Linked DNA regions of Homo sapiens: region 2 is linked to region 1. Evidence: fine-mapped expression QTL. A gene starts in region 1. The other region holds a variant in brackets. All regions are shown on one strand. Distances are from middle to middle.

Evidence for each region. PIP is the estimated chance that this variant, and not a neighbour inherited with it, causes the effect.
Region 2: its variant is fine-mapped to the expression of EFHD1 in liver (GTEx, PIP above 0.99). The same link has a PIP of 0.9 or more in aorta and testis.

The regions. Positions count from the first base shown.
Region 1 is chr2:232,632,120-232,634,619 of GRCh38, reverse strand. EFHD1 (EF-hand domain family member D1) reads right to left here and starts at 1,016. Exons shown (of 4, transcript NM_025202.4): 1 at 614-1,016. The coding sequence starts at 915. RefSeq lists silencers at 547-841, 919-978.
Region 2 is chr2:232,654,160-232,656,659 of GRCh38, reverse strand. The region is part of intron 1 of EFHD1 (EF-hand domain family member D1); the gene reads right to left. Among named protein-coding and RNA genes, the nearest start is that of EFHD1, 22 kb to the right of the region's middle. The variant T/A (reference allele first, on the strand shown) is at 1,116.

The DNA of each region.
Region 1 (2,500 bases):
GTGCCAGCGGCCAAGTTCGGTTCCCACAACCGCCCCCCCTCCCCGCGCCCCCAGGAGGCTCCCGGGCCGCGCCTGCTCCAGGAAAGTCCTGAATCTCTTACAACGACTTTACCAAACTCCCCGTTCTCGGCCTCCGCTCATTCATCAGACCCCGCGCTGCAGCCAAGGATTAACTTTCCCCTTTTGTTTTAAAAGATAAAAGGCCAACAGGGGCTAATTTTTCCCTTGGGGGGATACAGTGAAAGCTGGCAGGTGAGGCGCGGCGACGGCTCCCTTTCCTAGAAGTTGCTTTCGGAGCAAATCTCCGGACTGGCGGGCGGAGGGGGCGGGACCAGTGGTCGGGGTTGGGGGACCTGGAACTCGGGCCCGGCAGCCGCCGAGAACTTTTGGGCTCCGTCCCGGAGAGCTCCTGCTCCTGGTGTCCCCCCTCTTCGGCCCCGTCCCCCACCGCGCCGAGATAGACCCGAGCACGCAAGATCTGGCTGCGTTGGGCCAAATGCTACCTGCACCCCGGGACCCCTCCCCACACAAACAGGGCCCGGGACTTCGGACCAGAAAGCCCTCCCGCTCCCTCCCTGGTCCCGGGGGCGAAGGGCGCGCAGCGGGAGCTCACAGTTTGAACATGCTCTCCAGGTCCTTGATGAGGCGGCGGCTGAACTCCGGGAACTCCGTGTAGGGGTTGAAGACCCTGCAGCGCCGGGGCCGCGCAGCGCCCTCGTTGATGTCCAGCCGCCGGCTCAGCTGGGCGCTCAGCTCCGCGTCGGCGCTGGCCGTGGGCGCACGGGCGGGAGGCTCGGGCTCGGGCTTGGGCTCCGGGGCTGGGGCGCCGAGGGGAGCCAGCTGGGGGCCACTCTCCTCGGCCTCCTCGCGCCGCAGCCGGCGCTCCAGCTTGCACGCCAGCTCCTCACTGGCCATGGCGGCGGATCGCAGGACGCGGGAACGCGGGGACGCGGGACGGGACGCAGGGAGCTGGCGGGCGGCGCGCTCCTCGCAGGCTCGAGGCTCTACAACACTCCGCCGAGGCGGCGGGGACCCGGCGGTTGGGAGGGTCTGAGGACGGACTGGCGGGCGGGGCGGTCGGGGCGGAGCTGCGGCTTTAAGGAGGCGCCAGGGCTCAGCGACTGCCAGCCTGGTGGGAGGAGGCCGCCGGTGTCTGGGTGTCTGCGCGTCCCGGAGACCCCGACCTGCTTCCTCTCCCCGCGGCTCCGGGCGGGAGGCTGACCGTCCCCCCGGGACCAGGCAGGGACCCTCGGATCAACTCCGACCTTGCTGCCCCTGTCAGCTCCGGGGAAAACCGTAGCGGGAAAAAGCGTCTCGACCGTTCAGACGGTGCCTTTCTTGTCCCCCAGAAGTAACCCGACTGGAAGCGCTCGCGGCCCGGGACAGGCTGGGTGGGGGAGGCGAGCGCCCCCGAGCGACACCCACGCGTCCCCCGCGTCTGGGAGTGGTGCCCACCCTCCCCGGGGTCAGGGAGTGGGAGGCGCCCGCCCGGAGCGTGGGGCGGGGGAGCTGCTTTTCAAACACTCATTGGAACGAAATGTTTCCAAAACATGCTAAAAATACTAAAAACAAATAAGCAAACAAAAAAGAGAGAGAGCAAACGAGCAGAAAAAACTCCCGTTTTCCCTAGAGGCAGGAAAGCAGCGTAGCTTCAGGGACTCGGGTTTTTTTGCGTGAAACGCACAAGAAAAGAGAAGAAACCTGGCGCGGAGACTCACATCCGCAATCCCAACACTTAGGTGTTGGTGGCAGGATCTTTTGAGCCCAGGAGTTCGAGACCAGACTGGGCAACATAGTTAGACTGTCTCTACAAAAACTTTTAAAAAATCAGCCAGGCATAGTGGCGCTCGTCTGTAGTCCCAGCTACTCAGGAGGCTGAAGTAGGAGGATGGCTTGAGCCCGGGAGGTCGAGGCTGCAACGAGCCATGGTCAGGCCACTGCACTCCAGCCTGGGCGACAGAGTGAGACCCTGGCTCTAAAAATAAACGAAGAAGAAGGAGGGAGAGGGGGAGGAAAAAAGAAAGGAAAGAAGGAAAAGAAGCTTGAAAATTAAATCAGCATTTTTAACAAGAGGGTAAAAACAAATACAGTCGTCATTCTCCCCAAGGAAGGCTGATGCCGCTGTTACATCAGCCAGGCGTTGAGAATCTTGTAAACACGGGTCTGTCCCCACTTGAGAACGACGCTGCTCTGACCCACCATGGGCTGATGACTGGGGCAGGTCAGTGACCCCGCTGGACTATGGTTGTCTGAGACCCAGGGACCAGCCTTTGGCATGCGAGTGCAGGGCATGCGGGGGACCTGGGTTAAAATGTTATTTTTAAAAAGTTATAAAGGAAAATACGTTTTTTAAAGAAAAGTATAAAAATCTTTAACATTCCTACTGAACAACTTGACTTGGTACAGAGAATACGGGTTTTACATATACAATGGCAACCCTGCAAATAGATCACGGGGCGCTACACTTCCTGACCTGGTGGTGGTGACTAGAAGGTTGGCT
Region 2 (2,500 bases), 22 kb before region 1:
TTCAAGACAAGCCTGGGCAACATAGTGAGACCCTGTCTCTTCAAAAATATAAAAAAATTAGCAAGGCATAGTGGCATGTGCCTGTGGTTCCAGCTCCTCAGAAGGCTGAGGCAGGGGGATCATTTCAAGCCTGGGAGGTCGAGGCTGCAATGAGCTGTGCTCATACAACTGCACTCCAGCCTGGGTGACAGAGTGAGACTCTGTCCCAAAACAATTAAAAAAAAAAAAAAAAAGCAAGGTCCTAAAACTAAGACCCCCACAGACTGACTTTCCCAGCACAGGTTTTGAGAGAAATGGCGCTCACTTGCAACTGTGACCACACCTTCAGGGGACTGGGACCCTACAGTGAGTCAGGGAGGCTGCCAGAAAACTCATGGGCGAAATAAATCATAGTGGCAAGTACAAAAAGTCCTGAATCCTGAATGCAAGGGCCACAGTCCTACCCACCTCATCATGGTCTGCCCCACTCCACACAGACCTCACACTTCAGGGAGGCCATGGGCCTGGTCAGTGGGAAGCAGCCAAGAAGACGAATGGACTTAAGACCCCACACAGGCCGGGCACGGTGGCTCACGCCTGTAATCCCAGCACTTTGGGAGGCCGAGGTGGGTGGATCACGCGGTCAGGAGATCAAGACCATCCTGGCTAACACAGTGAAACCCCATCTCTACTAAAAATACAAAAAAAGAGCCGGGCATGGTGGCAGGCGCCTGTAGTCCCAGCTACTCGGGAAGCTGAGGCAGGAGAATGGCGTGAACCCAGGAGGCGGAGCTTGCAGTAAGCCGAGGTCGTGCCACTGCACTCCAGCCTGGGTGACAGAGCAAGATTCCGACTCAAAAAAAAAAAAAAAAAAAAAAGACCCCACACAAGGACAGGACAGGGGTGGAAGGAACAAGTGGGATCTGGCAAAGAGCTGCCTTCAGATGTTGCCCAGGGGCCCAAAGGCTGCCAGAACTGGGCTCTGTGCATGGAAATGGGTGAGACAGACTTTAGCTAAGTGCAAGGAAGTGCCTTCTGGCAAAACGGCCAACTGGAACTAGACCTGAGAAGTAAAGAGAGCTTGCACAAACCGGCTGGGAGGGACAGTCTCTGTTACACGGAGTCCCAGTCAAAGT[T/A]AACAGGTTCAGTGTGGAACTTTCCAGAGCCTTCCGTATGTGTCCAAAACTTACAAGAGGGAAACAGAGCACACAGACTCATCTGACCACACAGTCCTCTGCATTTGGGGATTTTCTGTTGAGAAGACGTACCTTGGCAATGCGGTTTTTCAAGGAAACCCTCTGAGAAGCACTTCTCTGGTCAAGTCAGCCTTAGAAGGGGTGGCCCAGTTAAATGACCACTAAGGGCAGGTACAGTGGCTTGAACCTGTAATCCTAGCTACTCCAGAGGCTGAGGCAGGAGGACTGCTTGAGCCCAGCAGGTCAAGTCCAGCCTGGGCAACACAGTGAGATCTATCTCTTAAAAAAGAAAAACATGACCACTAAGGTGCCTTCAGTGCCAAGAGTCTGGATAAATGTCTTCTGCCCACCGCTCACTGCCCAGCACACATAGCGTGTTCCAACAGAATTCGCAGAACAGGCTGAAGTGATCAATGTGGTGCATATGACACGCCAATCATTTGGGACATGAACAAAGAGTGAGCAGAAAGGAAGGAGAGTGAAGCGAGTAAGGGAGGAACTGAAAAGCCTGGGTGTAAGGAGACAGCAGCGCCCAGGAACAGGAGACAAACTGACTAGGCAGATGGGAGGATAAGTAAAGGTCAGGGAATAGGCAGGAATCTGTCCTCAGCTGGGAGAGGAAGCACCAGGGAGACGGCTTCCCAGCCCACATAAGCCGGAGCTAGCGCAGCCTCCCGCAGACACAGAGGGGCTGTCACATGTGAGGGACAAGAGGCTCTCCCCAACACAGGGAGGGGGATGAGAAAAGCCATCCTCTGGCAGGGCACGGTGGCTCACGCCTGTAATCCCAGCACTTTGGGAGGCTGAGATGGGAGGGTCAACTGAGGTCAGGAGCTCAAGACCAGCCTGGCCAACATGGCGAAACCCTGTCTCTACTAAAAATACAAAAAACTAGCCTGGTGGGGTGGCGGATACCCACACCTGTAATCCCAGCTACTCAGGAGGCTGAGGCAGGAGAATTGCTTGAACCCAGAAGGTGGAGGTAGCAGTGAGCCAAGATTGTGCCACTGCACTCCACCCTGGGTGACAGAGTGAGACTCTGTCTCAAAAAAAAAAAAAAAAAAAAAAGAAAGAAAGAAAAGAAAAGTCATCCTTTTACCTCTGGGGTTCGAACTGAGAGGAGTCTAGAAGACTTGGGAAACCTTCCTTTCAGGCCCCAAAGCCTGCAACGTTCTCCAGGCCTAACAAAAAAGGTCAAATATGTCAGAAAAGACCTTGGCAAGCTTAGGAAATATTGAAGGAATTCCAACTTCTTTCTTTTCTTTTTTTTTTTTTTTTGAGATGGAGTCTCGCTCTGTCGCCCAGGCTGGAGTGCAGTGGTGCGA